2 separate regions of the Homo sapiens genome follow, and region 2 is linked to region 1. A link means that fine-mapping ties the variant in region 1 to the expression of a gene that starts in the linked region. Tissue or cell type: whole blood. Region 1 holds a variant in brackets; the other region holds the start of a gene. All regions are shown on one strand. Distances are from middle to middle. Region 1 holds the start of LOC105374748 (a long non-coding RNA gene). Region 2 holds the start of ANXA2R (annexin A2 receptor).

Region 1 (8,335 bases):
TACAAGCTCTGCCTCCTGGGTTCACGCCATTCTCCTGCCTCAGCCTCCCGAGTAGCTAGGACTACAGGTGCCCACCACAACGCCCGGCTAATTTTTTGTATTTTTAGTAGAGATGGGGTTTCACCATGTTAGCCAGGATGGTCTCGATCTCCTGACCTCGTGATCCACCCACTTCGGCCTTCCAAAGTGCTGGGATTACAGGCGTGAGCCACCACGCCCAGCCTTAAATACATTTTTTCAAAAGTAGGGATTAGAGGATAGCAGTTAGGTTCTAATGAGAGAAAAGAGATTGAAAATGTGAACGGGGTTTCCAAATGCTGCTCCACTTATTTTTTAGATATCAGACTCTGCAATCCCCTTCCTACATTTATCCCTGCATGGCAATTTTTACCAAGTGCTTCAATAATATAATCCAACTTACAAATATTTATAATATTCACCTGAATTCAATATTGTGAACTTAAGAGCCATATGTCTTCAATAACCCCTTAACAGCCATCTGATTATGATTCAAATCCAGGAATTCTAATTCATTCTGGAAGCAGATACCTCTCAGATCCACTCTGAGTATACTCAAGTCCCCCACAGCTTTACTCTAAAGGAGGCAAAAGTTACAGCTGAACTAGAAACATCTGAGCCATTCCAGATTCTTCAGCCTAGCAAGGTTAAAGTCAGACCTTGAAAACAATTGAGTTCACTGGGGTCCAGTATCTGGACCTTTTATGCCATATATTCGTATATCCACTTTCCTATTTTGAAATACAAAGCAGCACCAAATTCATACAAATCTTTTCTTTCCCCACCTTCAGACAGAGTCTCCCTCTGTGGACCAGGCAGGAGTGCAGTGCCACAAACAGGGCTCACTGCAGTCTCAACATCCTGGACTTAAACAATCCTCTCACCTCAGCCTCCACAGTAGCTGGCAGCAAGGTGCATGCCACCACCTTGGGTTAATATTTTTTATTTTTTTGTAGAGATGGGGTCTCCCCATGTTGCCCAGGGTGGTCTCAGACTCCTGAGCTCAAGCAGTCCTCAACTTCAGCCTCCCAAAGTGCTGGGATTACAGACCTGAGCCACCATGCCCAAATTCACACAAACCTATGCCCCCAGCTCAGACTCTGGTGCTGCAGGCCTGTATTCTTTCTTATTTACTGAATGGCTCTTTTGAAAGCCCCCAGACAATTCTAAATCCAGTCTTACTCAACTTGAAGATTCCTTATCTTGGCTAATGACAGCAAAAATAAATAAATAAATAAAATAAATAAATAAATAAATATATATAGTTTAGCAAAATTCACAAATTTTATCTTAGAATAAATTTTATCTTTTCTTGCTTCCTTTCTTCCTCTTCTGCCTTTTTTCCTTCCTTCTTCCTTAACCATAACTCTAACTCTAAATCTAACCAGGTGACTGAATCCTTCATGGCATATTACTTGTCACCCTCTACATCAGCATCCCCCCTTCCCAGGAGAAATTGCATCTTCCCTTTCACTTTCCTTAGCAGAGGATTCCTGGTAACTCCATACAGAAAGATTCTCCTGGTGTTCTTCAGACTTGAGGAAAAGCAGATTCCTCTCACAAGGGTGCTTGTTGGTTCAAATTAGCATCATGACGTTCACGAATTCCATTATACTGTTAAATCAGAATTCTGCTTTCAGAAGACCAAATTCACAATATCCTGAAGCACCACTGATTTCCTCCTACAGGAAAGACAAACACACACACATAATTGTTAGTCAAGAGTTTATCGGTCACCAAAATTGGGTAAACTTTTGGAACTTGTCAGTGAATACAGCCCCAAATTACTACAGCAAATGGAACCAGGAAGAAGAAATTCTGTGGAGGAACTAGGAGGAAGAACATGTGTGGAGGTGCATTGGAGTGGTAGTCACAGGGCTCCCCTGCACCTTGCAGGGTCTAGTGGATCCTGCGGTTTATAATCTATCAAACATTTGTAGAGAGTGTTTTACAAAACAAACAGACAAAACAAACAAAAAAACAGACACAAAACCCTCTAAGTTACAGGTAAGCTTAGGACAGGCAGGAAATTGGGAGGGTGAATCTTCAATCCCAGAGACCAACAGCAAATGGTTCATTTTTTGTAGGTGAACCAGAGGCATGGTGGAGCCCTCCGTTGGCACCAAGCAGAATTCTTCACTTTCTTACTCTAGATTACTTACCCTGGGACATTTTTGCCTTTTACTTTCTGTCTAGACTCCTGCATGATCTTTGTTTTTACCTGCTCTACTACAGTTATAACTGTTACCATCTTTTCTGAGCCTAAAATCAAGAACCAATACCTGACAAAGAAGTAGATTGTTAAAACCAAGAGTTTCTCTGTATCAGGAAAGTATTCATATGAATTCCTGCCTCCTAATTTATTAGTTGCCCAGCTTTCTGCAACATACCAACTGACCAGAAGATTCACCTGTACACACCACCTGAGTGTTGGGGACTTTTTCTTTCTTGGCCCTCCCACCTCCCACCGTTTTTCTGTTTTGTGTCACTTTCATTTGGTTAATAATATTCTAACAAGATTTGTCATTATAGTTATCTTAGTTTGATGAGATTTTTCTTCATGAAATTGAACAAAAATATCAGTCTTTGTTAATTCTTTATTATTTATTGTTTCGGATGACACAGCAGGAAGGGAAATAGGAAAGGCTCTACATCATTTGTCGTATGTGCTCCACAATTTGCCCTCAAGTTTGAATCCTAGGTCCTACCACCCACACAAAACTGCCATTGCCAGCCTGCTCAATTCTACCCAATCTCTAGCCATTTTCATACTGCAAAGTTCCTATGACCTCCTCCCAAGGAGCTCAATTCTGTACTTTACCTCTTCCTGACCTCCCTGGAATCCACCCCGCCTCCAACCACACTGTAATTAGAATCTGAATTCTGCAACTACCTTGATGTTAGTCTCTGTAGGGGAGCAGCCTGCAGCCTCCTATGGACTCCCATTAAGACAGGATATTCCTTCCGTCTAGGGGGTGCTGATTGCAACTTTTTTGCTAAGATGAAAAGCTGGAGTCGAAATGAGAAGAGAGGAGTTGTGGCAGGTATTTTGTTTTGCAATGGCTCCAGACTGCTCTTCCGTTTGATAAAGTGGCTGTAACTATGTGGGTGGGAACAGTGCAGTTTTTTCTTTATTCTCCCACCCACAAAACCAGGAGGAAATTGGAAGGGCCTCAAATACCAGGGAATGTTTTGGCTAGCTGAAGACGGGGTAAGGTGGGAAGGAGATATTGAGGCAAACATCTTGGGAGAGGGTGAGAATTACAAGGCCAAAATGGATTTCCTTACCAGGCAGGCATATCTCTGCCTTTGTCCTGGCATGGCCTCTACCTAGGATGCCCCAGGGAAAGGATAGTTTGGTTTGCACAGGAGCAGCAGTGATGAAAATCGGAAATGATGAGTGTGGTTGGAGATATTTGTGGCAGGGTTTGTAGGTCTCTTTGAGGGGGCTCAACTCACAAAGTGCAGATTTTTATTAAAATATAAATGCTTGTGGGAAAGGACATTTTCCTACTGAGCAGTGGCAGTCCCATATTTCTTCTCAGATTTAAAAAAAAAAAGGCCTCAGTCTGAAAAGTGAGGAGATGGAGGATTTGAGCACTTACAAGTTCACCTGCATTGCATTTCCCAGAAGATAGAAATCAATGATGCATTTTGAAGATCATGCTGCTAGAGACAGAGAACCACAACTTGAGCTTTTCTCTGGGCTTAGAGAGGAGGTGTATGTCTCGCTGTCAATTCTACATCCAACGCTGGAATCTTTCAGCCCATTTTCCTCCCCGGCTGTTTTTGAACTACTATCCCCAAATATCGAGGATATCTGACAGAGTGAACCATCAGAATAAGGAGCGATTGCCACAGAGTTCCATCCAGTAGGGGAGGGACTTGATGTGCGGGGCAAGCCTGATGCCCGGGTCAGGCGACTGTGCCTTTCATTCTCCACGGAGATCTTGAACCTAGAGTTTCCAAGTTCCGAAGAGATGCGGTTGTCGACAGCTCTCCTAGAATCTCTGATGGCTCTGAACGGGGACAAAGGTCTAGGGCAGAGGGATGGTGTGGAAGGACCCAGCCACGGCCATTGGAAGAGCAGTTTCCTGCAATGTAATGCTGTTTGCGACCAGCATAAGCTTTAGCTCTCTCCCAGGACGAGCCACATCCGCCCCATTCACGGTCCTTATTCCAGCTCCTTTCCCTCTGCGAATCACACTGGGTGGGTCGCTGGGGGCCTCGGTAATTACGGATTATGGCACAGCCAAGAAAAATACAGGTTTTCTTAAGCCTGAAGCCACTGACTTGAGGGGGGAGAGTAGGAGTAATGCCAGCAGCAGTTTTGTATTTGGTTTTTGTTTTTATATTCTAGTCTCTAGGCCACAAGACAATGTTGCACCCAGTGCCAGTCGATCCGTCACGGCGCCGCAAACTTTCCCTGAACGGAGGGTTTGTGGCTGACATCTCTAGTTTCTCAGAGCCTGGGAGTGATCACTGGCTGCACCGCTGATGGCGCCCAAAAGAACGCGCATTTGTCTTTGGCAACAGCGCTGGGTTTCGCCTCGTGCCCGCGCCTGAAGGGTCCTAGCGCCGCCAGATTCTCACACTCGCGGGTCCAGCGCCCAGCGCTGCTCCTCCCACCAGTCATCGGTTTCTCACACGCACTTCATTGGCAGCACTGGCGAGTCAGTTTTCCGGTGGCGGCGGCGCTAGTTGGTCTGCACGAAACGTTTCCCTTCTCGCTCCGTGTGTCCCATTCTCCATCCCACGTCCTCCAGTGCCGGGGTCA[T/C]GGTCGCAGCACCCGGCGTTCCCGTTGGCTCTTTTGCCGCTGCGCGGAGCCGGCGGTTTTTCTGTCACAGCACTTGTACGGAGTTTCTCGGCGGCCGAACGTCTCTTTTTTTCTCAGAGACGACGGTTTCTTGGTGACAGTACCGTTGGTTGCGCCGTAACGAATGTTCTCCTTGACAGCCCCACCAGCTGGCGTCACTCGCAGGCTCCAGACGCCGCCATTTCGCCAAGCCGAGGTCTCTTGGTTGCGGCACTGCTTCTGGCTCGGTGCCTGTATTTTCTCGGTGCCTACAGCGCCCAGGTCGCCGATCTGAGGGCTTCGGAGTACCGGCCGGGCGCGGTGGCTCACGCCTGTAATCCCAGCACTTTGGGAGGCCGAGGCGGGCGGATCAGGAGGTCAGGAGATCGAGACCATCCTGGCTAACACGGTGAAACCCCGTCTCTACTAAAAATACAAAAAAATTAGCCGGGCGTGGTGGCGGGTCCCTGTAGTCCCAGCTCCTCGGGAGGCTGAGGCAGGAGAATGGCGTGAATCCGGGAGGCGGAGCTTGCAGTGAGCCGAGATCGCGCCACTGCACTCCAGCTTGGGCGACAGAGCGAGACTCCAACTCAAAAAAAAAAAAAAAAAAAAAAAGAAAAGAAAAAGAAATCTGGGTACCCGCGAATGCGATTTTTTTTAGGTTTACCGATGATCAGTTTAGCAGTGCCTGGGAGCTCTTATACCAAGTTTGTTTTCGCAATATTGAGTCCCACCTTAGCTAAGCTTGTGTGTATTTTAAACTCCCATGGAAGTCAGGAAATGTCCGCAAACGCGATTTCTGGTTACCAAGCTCCGTTTGGCAATAGCAAGTCCTGCCGAACGCGACTTTTTCCTCTTGTGGACCAAGTCTGAATAGACCAGCTACTGCGATTTTTAAGTCGTAGTAAAAAAGGTTTAACCGTGACTGCTTTTTTTTGTTGGTGTTGTTTGTTTTTGTTTTTGTTTTCGTAGGAAATGTAGACTTAGGTGTAACATGTACCGGTTTAGATCTGACAGAGATATCACAATTGTAGGATTGCATCTTTTAGCAAGGTTTGTAATTTCTTCTTTCTAGGATTGGTTCTCTGTAATTTTTGCTTATTTTTAAATTCTCTCTTTGTCTTTTGCTCTGAGAACGATGTTACCGATGTGTTTGCTTTCCATGTTTACTTGCATTTTAGCCTTTATTTTTTTAATTTTGATTTTATTTAAATGTTATGTATTTTTTTTCTACTAATTTTGAGCGTCTCAGCTTCCTGCTTCTTTACTTACATTCTCTCAGGATCCGGGGAGCCGAGCTCGGTCTCAGTCTCCCTGCTGTCAGGTGCCAGGTTGTGTCTGGTGGCTCTCCTTCGTATGCGGAGCTGATGGTTTTGCATCAGCGCTTTTGCCAGTAGAGCCGACTAGCGTTTTCTCAGTTACGGCACCGTTCTTAGCGCCCAGTGTGACGTTTCCCATTCGCCAGGTCCTTATGTTCTCTGTGCTGTCACTTTCTTGGTTCTCGCACCGCTAGTATCTGCTAAAGAACTTCCTAAACCATGTTTTACTGTGCAGAACGGTGATTGCACGGAGCCGCTGTACGCACTAGTAATTTCATAGCACCGTTAGCTGGCGCTTTTTCTGTCACAACACATTAAAACGGGTTAAAATACTGCAAGCGGATTAAACACATTAAGAGGATTAAAACATTAAAATGTCTCAACACATTTTTCTGACACAACACATTTAAACGGAGTGGGTTCATTCCTCCGAAGAGGATGTTTAGGCGTGGAAGCACCGCTGTTTCCCAAGAGCACGGTTTCTCTCTGGCAGCACCACTTATGGCACCAAAACAGGTATTTTTTGGCAACACCAGCACTATTCGCTAGGTGCCGGCGCTTGCTGAGTCCCAGCGCCGCCAGTTTCTCTTTCGGTCGTTAAGTAGCTCAGAGCCCTAGCGGACAGTTTTCAGGTGGCAGTAATGCTCATTTCCTGGAACAGATGGTTCGTGGCCCTTGAAGCGCTGCGATCTGTAAAGCTAGTTCTCTGCAAGGTTTGCTTAGTGTCTGTTTTATTTCGGTTTCTTTTCTTGCTATGTTTATCTGTCGGAATTACAGTTTGTTTTGGTTCTATGTAATCTCTAAAATGTTATCGTTTTTCTTTTGACTACTAATTTTTGTGCATTCATTACTATTGAGTTTCATAATACCTGGCTTGCCTCCGCCCACGGCCTCCGGAAAGCATAAATGTCCAGGCTAATGGGAGTGCTGAAGGCTCTGCCTCGTTGATCAGCACAAACGCTTGTGTCCTGCTCTAAGGCTTAAGCGATGGAGCAACGTTTTCTTGGCTGTGCGAAGGGGGCTTGGGATTCCGCAGAGGTGGCGCCAAAGCCCCAGCCTCCACCTGCTCTGGGTTCAGAAGGTTGTGGGCGGTGGCCTCTCCCTTTTTATCCAGTACTGGGAGAGTACTCATTGGACAGCTGTAATTTGGGACTGCTTTCCAGCCCTTGTTAGTGGCTTCAATTAAATACTTTATCAGAAAAATAGAAACTTTAAGCCCAAATGATTTTTCAGGTTCACTTGATTTAAGTAAATCTTTGACAAATAAGCTGCATTTAAAATTATCAGTAAAATAAAATTAGAAATGTCTTCAGAATTGTCAATATACATTATTGTTTAGATTTATTGGTCAGCGGTTTCTGATTTATCTCTGCTAGATATTATAAGGCGTGAAAATTTGGCATGAAGGTTATAAATCTATAAATGCAACCCCAAACAGAATTATCTTTGTTCATGTAATTTTGGTAAATAAGGCATTTAATATCATTGGTTTAAAGAAAACAGCTAAATCTTGGGTTACTGACAGAAGAGAAAAATCCATTTATTTAACCTTAAGGTTCTTACTTAGGTAAACACCTGATATTCACAGTCTATAATAATGGTTGACAGGGACATAACTGTAACTGGCCCATATGTTCATTTTGCCTGTTGCCCAGATAGAGTTGATTTGTCAAGACAGCGAATTGCAATAAAGAGTTTAATATGGGCAGAGTTGGCTAAATTGGAGACCTGAATTTTATTATTACTCAAATCAGCCTCCCAGAAAATTCAGAAGCCAAGGTTTTTCAAGGATAGTTTGGCAGAAGGGTGCTGCTGCTCAGCTGAGGAACAATCACAGGGGTGTGGAAAACAGTCCTCCTGCACTCAGTCCATTTCTTGAGTGGCGGCCACAGAGGAGTGGCTGATGCTGTTGGGGCCATCAAAGTCTGAAAAGTCATCTCAAAAAGCCAAACCTAGGTTCTAGTAATTAGGGAAGTTGCAAATCTTGTGACCTCTGGAATAAAGGCTGGTAATCCTTTAACTATGCCCACATCTTAGCAGAAATCAGGCCCTTCTCATCCTCCTAACCTGGTGGGCTTTCATCAGCTTTACAAAGATGGTTTAGTTTTGGGAAGGGCTATTATCATATAAACTATAAACTAAATTTCTCCCTAAGTTAGGTTGGCCCATGCCCAGATCAAGGGCTGTTTGGAGGTTAAAGGCA
Region 2 (8,335 bases), 24 kb after region 1:
ATCGAAAAAACACAGACTCGATTGTGACAGAAATACCGCCACAAACGCAGGTACAGGGACAGCCGACACCGAGAACCAAGGGAAGCGGCTGAGAGCTGCGCCTCCACGGAATAACTGCCAGCCGGCACAGTGCGAGTGAGAAACCGGCCACTCCATGAAACGACCAGTACTGCCACGGAAAAGAATCCGACGTCGCCAACAAGCGGTGCTACCAGGAGAAACGCCTGCTTTTGAAGAAAACAGCCAGGAACGCGACTGAAAGACACTTGCTCCCAGGAAGAATTGGCATTTGTTCCAAAACACAGCTGGATAAACCGAGAACCTTCGGAGTGGTTGCACCGAAACGGGGTCACCCAGCACCTCAGCGTCCTGGGCTCTAGCAAGCCTCACAGAAGCAACCGGCAGTGCTAACACCGAGGAGCACCTAGAGCGGCAAAACTAGCAGTAATGCCATCGACGAAAGGCCAGTTAGGCCAAAAGAATAGAATATTTAGTTCCGGGAATTACAGGCCAGCGCAAACCAGACAGCATAAAGCTGAGGGTCAGCAAAACAAAAATTAGGAACAATTTTTTTTTAAAGGGCAAGTTAGCTGAAAAACACACGCACACACAATAAAAACAATACATTTGGGAAGATTCATCAAATGAAAATTCAAAACTAAGCAAAACATGGAAAAATGGACTCTACAAAGAAGAAAATGCAAACACTTCTAAACAATGTGGTTTCACAGAGGTAATATCGCTGTCAGGCCTATATCAGTATCTGCTCGGTCTCACCAGGACTTCTAACTAAGGGACTGCAGACACTGCTAAACCGCTACTTGCTACTCCTAAAATATCTTCTTCACCTACGTGCCCGGACTTCTATATTTAAAACTCAGGCATAAGTAAAGCAGGGTAAGTTATTATGAAACCGAAAGTTACTGGGACTAAGGAGTCGCAGGCATGGCTATGCTAGTACTGGTTGCGACCAAATATGGACTTGCAAGAGCTAAGAAATCACATTCACAGGGGCACTTAAAATCGAAGCATGCACTTGTTACTCTAAGAAATCCCTAACCCAGGACTCGCTCAGAATATTTCGAACGCAGAATTAAGCATCTTTATCGCAGGCGAAATAAGCCGATACTTATTCCGCTTAAGTCCGAACTTGCTATGCAGAGAAACCACAATCAGGGCTACATTCCGAGTGTAGGAGGTTTAAAACTCCCGAAAAGGCAGTCAAAGCAGGCAGGGCCAAGCCGGACCTGCTGTGCCTACCCGAATTGCTAAACCCAGTTGTGGTACCATTAAGTAACTGGTAGTTCTCTTATAAGCCAAGCTAAACTGTTCCAAAGAAAAAGACGCTGGAAACACTGCTAGCCCTGAGACCCATGAATAAGTAGTCTTTTCAATTATTTATTTATTTTGAGACAGGCTCTCGCTCTGCTGGAGGGCGTTGGTGCTATCCGGCTCACCGCAGCCTCGACCTCCTGAGCTCAAGCAACCCGCCCACCCCAGCCTCCGGAGCAGCTGGGACTACAGGTGCACACCATCTCACAGGGCTAACTTTTGCATTTTTTGTAGACACAGGCCTCACCCTGTCGCCCAGGCTTTTCTCAAACTCCTGAGCTCAAGCAATCCGCATGCCTCCGCTGCTGAAAGTGCTGGGATTACTGCCGTGAGCCACGCTGCCCCGCCAGAATAAGTAATCTTAAGAACTGGTCATCTGTGAAGTTGTATTAATATAAGTAATTGCGTGGTCCTTCCACGAGAAATAGCAAAGATTGATAAACCTCTCAGTCTTATGATCGTGAATAAAATTCCTGAGTGTAAAACAATGAATCGATATACTGAAAAAAAGAAAGACCGCTGTTAAAAATAAAATTAACAATTAAAATTAAAAAGACGTTATAATAACGTAAAAGACATGATATAAAATTAAATGTAAACAAACAATACATTTAAAAAGCAATAATTAGAAAAATAGTAGGAATAAGATTTTAAAATACAATGGAAAAAAACAAATTTTAAATTTGCCAAAAACTCTAAGAATTCTACAATCGTAAAATAGATTTCTCAAAGTGAAAACAGATACGAATGAAATATTTAATGAAATAAATACAAATATTTAAAATACAAGGAAACTGAAAGTAATAAGCGACGCGAAACAAGAAAGAAACATAAGGGAAAAAGAGAATTTAAAAACTGACAACCAGCAATGAAAGCACATCTTAATGTATTTTTATTTTCTAGGTGGAGACGTTTGGTAACTGAGAATCTTTTCAAGGAGGAGAATCCAAAAAGCCTTCTGCTGCTATCTAAGGCTGCTTAGCTCCACAGATCCGTGAACAGCACGCCCAGAGTACAGAGAACGCGGCAAAACCAACGCGAAGAATCCACTCCAGGCAGTCTGAGAAACCCGGGAGGTGGCGCCACGGCTGGAGGGCAGGAGGATGGCGGCGTTCCAAAAGGCACCCGCTGTCACAGACCTCGGTGTCCTGCTGTCTGTCCCAGGGATGGAGAGGACTGCTCCAGGGAAGCTGCTGGAGCCTGAGTCTGTCGGGTTCCTCTGCCTGCCCCACCTCTTCTACGGGTGCCTCTTGCTGCTTCTGTGTCCCCGGCCAACTGAACTCAGTGGGCTTCGCTGTACTTGGTTCCAAGGTGCTCTGGACTCCAGGAGAGAGTCCGTTTTGCCAGTAGACTCCGGGCAGCCGCCAGCAAGGGCTGGAAAGCAGTCCCAAATCACAGCTGTCCAGTGAGTACTCTCCTAGTACTGGATACAAAGGAAGAGGCCACGGCCCACGATCTTCTGAACTCACAATAGGTGGAGGCTGGGGCTCTGGCGCCACCTCTGCGGAATCCCAAGCCCGCTTCACACAGCCAAGAAAATGTTGCTCCATCCCTCAAGCCTCAGACCAACGTTTGCGCTGATCAAGGAGGGAGAGTCTCTGCACTACCATCAGCCTGAGTATTTATGCTCTGCAGAGCCCGTGGGCGGAGGCCAGTCAGATATTAAGAAACTCAGTAGTAACAAATGCACGAAAATTAGTAGACAAATGAAAAACGATAACATTTTAGAGAGTACATAGAACCAAAACGAACCGTAATTCCGACAGAAAAACATGGCGAGAAAAGAAACCGAAATGAAATGACACTAAGCAAATCTTGAAGAGAACTAGCGCTACAGAACGCAGGTATTCAAGAGCGCGCAAGGGCCAAGAACCACCCGTTTCCGGGAAATGAGCGTTGCTGCCACCGGAAAACTGTCTGCTAGGGCTCTGCCCTAACCACCTTGCAAACGAGAAACTGGCGCGTTGAACTTAGCAAGCGCCGGCACCTAGCGGATAGCGCTGGTATTGCCAAACAAATATCCGTTTTGGCGCCGTAAAGGGTGCTGCTAAAGAGAAACAGCATGCTCTTAGAACTAAGAGCGGTGCTTCCACACCTAAACAACCTGTTTGGAGGAATGAACCAACTCTGTTTCAATGTGTTGTACCAGAAAAATGTGTTGCGGCATTTAATGTGTTTTAATCCGTTCAATGTGTTTGATAGGTTTAATATGTTTTAACCCGTTTTAATGGGTTGTGACAGAAAAAGCGCCGGCTAATGGTACCACACAATTACTAGTGCGAACAGCGGCTCGGTGCAATCACCGTTCTGCACGGCAAAACGGGGTTCAGGAAGTTCCTAGGAGATACTAGCGGTTGTAGGAGCGAAAAAGTGACAGCACTGAGAACCTAAGGACCCCGCGAACGGGAAATGTCACGTTGGGTGCAGCAACTGAGAAAACGCCCAGTGGGCGCCACTGGCAAACGTGCTGATACAAAACCGCCAGCTCTGCATAGGAAGCGGAGCCTCCAGACAGAACCCGGAACCTGATACCAGCGAGGCTAAGACCGAGCTCGGCTCCCCGGCTCCTGAGAGAATGAAAGTCAAGAAGCACGAATCTGAGACGCTCAAAATTAGAAGAAAAAAAAAATACATAATTTAAAATAATGAAAGTCTGAAATGCAAGTAAAAATGAAAAACACATCGGTAACATTGTCCTCAGAGCAAGACACAAAAATAATTTTAAGGTAAGCAAAAGTTACAGAGAACCAACCCTACAAAGAAGAAATTACAAATATGGCTAAGCGATGCAATGCCTACCATTAGAATATTTCTGTCAGATCTAAACCCCTGCAGGTTGCTCCTGTCATAATTTCCTACGAGAAAAAAAACAAAAATATCCACGGTTAAACGTGTTTAGCTACGTCTAAAAAATCGTAGTAGCTGGTACATCCCGATTTGGTCTACAAGAGGAAAAAGTCTCGATGGGCAGGACTTGCTATTGTCAAAGGGAGCTTGGTAAAACTGAGACATCGCGATCGCCGGCATTTCCTGACTTCCACGGGAGTTTTAAAAACACACAAGCATAGCTAAGACAGGACTCGATATTGCGAAACCAAACTTGGTATAAGAGCTCCCAACACTGCTAAACTGGTCATCGCTAAACCTTTAAAAAAAAAAAAAAAGCATTCGCTGGTACCCAGATTTCCACAGGAGTTAAACATTTCCTGCGCAGCTAAAGCAAGTCTTACCAGTAGGAAACCGGAACTTGCTAGGACTAAGAAACTTGAGGCTAGGCTGACCCCATGGTTGTTATGATTAGAAATCCGAGGCCACTGGAAACCCGGAGCTGCTGACCAACGAGTCACAGGGTAACTTCGCCTTCGCATGGGGAAACGGGTGAGTTCCTACGGCCTAGATATCGCAGCCAGGGCTAGACCGGTGTTTGTCTTAAGTCAGGACTTGCTTGGGCTGAGAAAATACATTTTGGCTATTCCCCTACTTGGACAGAGGGTGGAAATCCCAGGCACCGCGAAATCGAAACTTGCTAGGACTAAGAAGCCAACGACGCGCGAAACCGTGGGGTCCTGCGACAGAGACGCCGGCGGCGCCGCCACAGGACTGCGTTCTGGAGGCCGAGCCGGAACCCGTGCGGCGGCGCTGGGAAGAGACTGTGCCCCTGCAGCTCCCCTGTCACCGGCTCCAAGGAGCGTCGGGCTCCCCCCGCCCAGCCCTGCAGCACCCATCCGGCAACGCCAGACTCGGCGCAACGGGGGCAGCTGCGACTTTAAATCTCTCAGATCCGCGGCCTGAGGGCTGCCGCCACCGAGAAATGGAGGCACAGAGCTGTGAACAAGAGACCACGGCTCGCCGAAATGGCGGTGCCAGGAGCCTGAAAGGGAATGCAGCCGGCGGGGTTGTCAAGGACAACATTTGTTTTGGCGCAACCAGCGGTGCCGTCACCAAGAAACCGTCGACTCTGAGAAAAAAAGAGAAGTTCGGCTACCGAGAAACTCCGTGCAGCAAGTGCTGTGACAGCAAAACCGCCGGCTTCGCGCCGCTGGCGAAAGAGCCAACGGAAACGCCGGGTGCTGCGACCGCGAAGCCGGCACTAGAGGGCCTCGGATGGAGAAAGCCCCGCACCGAGACGAGGAAACTGTGCACAGCACGACTAGCAGTTGACACAAACAGAAAAGTGTCTCGTCTGCTCTCTGGGAGAAAGCGTGGATCAAAACCAGCAACTCAGTGGAGAGAACCCCGCAGCCACTGAAGAAGTTGCCCACGTGGCGGTGGGGCCAGAGAAACACCGCGATTTCGACGACAGCCGTAGGGATACCACAGAGAAACATGCGCGGCCACAGAAGTACATCCAGCTCCGCGCAATCAGTGGTTCTGCGATCCAGAAACCGCCAGCTGGGCTAGACTAGAAACTTCTAAAAAACTGTCGTCCCATAGCAGCTTTCCTAACCACGACAGACAGTCGCCTTTAGAGAGCACCTAACGGTGCTGAGACCGGCCTGGGCCAGCAAAAGCGCAGAGCGGTGCCAGTGCCAAGAAACGCCCGACTTGGTGAAACCAACCTTGTGACCACCGATTCCACTGGCTTCGCAGGACGCAACGGGCGAAGGCGCGGCGGAGAAACCGCAGGCTCCCTTCACCGATTATGCTGCGGGCTGGGGATGGTGGGGGGCACCCGCGAAATTGTGAAACCAGCGGCGCTGGGACCCAGCGATCAGCTGCCCGTAGCAAATGTCTGTGCAGTTGCAAAAGATAATTTTTGGCCGTGAGAAGGTTGCCGCCAGAGAGCGTCCGATAACGCTGACAAAGGCGTGGCGTTGCCAGTGAGAAACAGCCGGCGCTGGGAAAGGAACGGTGCAGCGACCGACCAACTGCGCGCTCGGTGCCACCAAAGTGCTACTGGCTCTACCCACTCTGTCCCCCACGGGCTTAGGGAAGTCTGATGTCTTTTTCTTTTCTTTTTTCCTCTGTCGCCTAGGCTGGTGCAGTGGTGTCATCTTGGCTCAGTGCAGCCTCGACTTCCTGGGATCCAGCGATCCTCCCGCTTCAGCCTCTAGAGTAGCCGAGACCACAGGTGAGTGCTACCACCCCCGTCTAATTTATATATATTTATATATATAAATATATATATTAAAATATATATTTTATATTTATATATAATATAAATAAATATATAAATATAAATATATATTTTTATATATTATATAAAATATATAAATATATATTTATTTATATATTATATATAATATATATATTATATAATATATATATTATATAATATATATATAATATATAATATATATATTATATATAAAATATATTATATATAATATATATAATATATTATATATTATATATTATATATAATATATATAATATATTATATATAATATATAATATATAATATATTATATATAATATATAAAATATATAAAATATAGTATATAATATATAAAATATATTATATATAATATATAATATATAAGATATATAATATATTATATATAATATATTATATATAATATATTTTATATAGTATATAAAATATAAAATATATATTATATATAAAATATATATTATATATAAAATATATATTATATATAAAATATATATTATATATGAAATATATATATATAAATATATATATATTAGTGACGGCGGTCTCGCTATGTTGCCCAGGCTGGTCTCGAACTCCTGAGCTCAAGCGATTCGCCCGCCTGGGCCTCCCAAAGTGCTGGGATCACAGGCGTGGGCCACCGAGGCCCGCAGGAAGTCTGTATTGTTCTTGCATTCCACCCAGTGCATTACGCAGGGGGAGAGTAGTGGGCTTATGCGCCGAGAACCAAGCAGATCCTGTTGGTCCCAGGAACAAAGTATAAACCATTCTGGTCGCCAACAGCTTCCTACGCAGGAAACAGCCATCCACCCTCTGTGACTGGGCTTTTCCAGGTCACCCCTCGCTGCCAGGCTCTCTTCCCGGTCCAGAGCCCACAGGATCCTACAGGAGGGGCCAACAACTGCTTGCCTTTGAAACTTGAAACTCTCGGTCTAAGGTTCCTTAGGAGCGTAAAAGGCACAGCGTTTTCTGATCGCAGCTTCAGGTCTCCCGCCCCTGTCCCGGTACCTCTCCTGCAGGACGGAACTCTGTGGGAACGCTCGTTGATTCTGATGGTTAACTGTCAGATATCCTTGATATTGGACATAGGATTTGGAAGAGGGCAGGAGAGAAAAATGAACTGCAAGACTCCAGCACAAGAGGTGGGATTGCTGGCAGATGTCTGCTCCCTCTCCAAACCTAATGAACATCTCAAAGTGCCATCCACTTTCCTATACCCTTGATCTGTGAAATGGATCACTGACGCTTTCTCTGTCTTTCCGGAAATGCAAAACAGGTGAATTTTCAAGCGCTTGAATTGTCTCTCACACTTTTCAGTCAAGAGTGGGGCTATAAACTCCTTCCTCATAGGAAATAAGGAACTGCCACTGCTTGGAAGTAAAACGTATTTTTCCCATAAGCTTTCACATTTCCCAAAAAAAATTATACATCCAGATGTAATCCCCCTAAGAGGCTTACAGACCCTACCAGGAGCGTTCCCACGCGAACGCATCATCTCCCAATCGGATCCTGAAAACACCATGCAACCAATTCCATCCTTTTCTGGATCAACCTGGGCAGAGGACAGGTGCAGAGGAGCCCAGAGAAGGGCCTTGACAAGTCAGGAGACCCAATTTGGGGTCGCAATTGTCACTCACTCCCCAGGCGTTTGCTTTGATCTTCCCCTCCCACCATACTACTTCTTCTGCTACCTGGTTTCTCCCTGGTATTTGAGGATCCTCCAATTGCCTTCTGGTCTTACAGACGGGAGAATAAAGGAAAAATGGCATCGTTTCCACCTTAAAAGTTACAAGCACTTCACCAGATGGTACAGCCTAGGTAGAGCCTTTGTAAAACAAATGCCCGCCCACTGCTTCACCCTCCTCATTTCCACCTCAGCAAAGCATTTTA

What was found. PIP is the estimated chance that this variant, and not a neighbour inherited with it, causes the effect.
Region 2: ANXA2R starts here. The variant in region 1 is fine-mapped to the expression of ANXA2R in whole blood (TOPMed, PIP above 0.99).

What each region holds. Positions count from the first base shown.
Region 1 is chr5:43,013,451-43,021,785 of GRCh38, forward strand. ANXA2R-OT1 (ANXA2R overlapping transcript 1) reads right to left here. Exons shown (of 3, transcript NR_104651.1): 3 at 1,279-1,700. It overlaps LOC105374748 (a long non-coding RNA gene), which reads left to right and starts at 4,695. Exons shown (of 3, transcript NR_188279.1): 1 at 4,695-5,222; 2 at 5,786-5,866. RefSeq lists enhancers at 2,188-2,237, 4,024-4,263, 4,662-5,184, 4,724-4,863, 6,931-6,980. The variant T/C (reference allele first, on the strand shown) is at 4,796.
Region 2 is chr5:43,037,165-43,045,499 of GRCh38, forward strand. It overlaps ANXA2R (annexin A2 receptor), which reads right to left and starts at 3,155. Exons shown (of 1, transcript NM_001014279.3): 1 at 2,207-3,155. The coding sequence starts at 2,882. The coding sequence ends at 2,301. The region is part of intron 2 of ANXA2R-OT1 (ANXA2R overlapping transcript 1); the gene reads right to left. It overlaps ANXA2R-AS1 (ANXA2R antisense RNA 1), which reads left to right and starts at 4,970. Exons shown (of 2, transcript NR_015447.1): 1 at 4,970-6,403; 2 at 7,279-8,104. RefSeq lists enhancers at 2,037-2,577, 2,269-2,318, 2,339-2,748, 2,759-2,808, 4,464-4,543 and 7 more and a silencer at 3,149-3,418.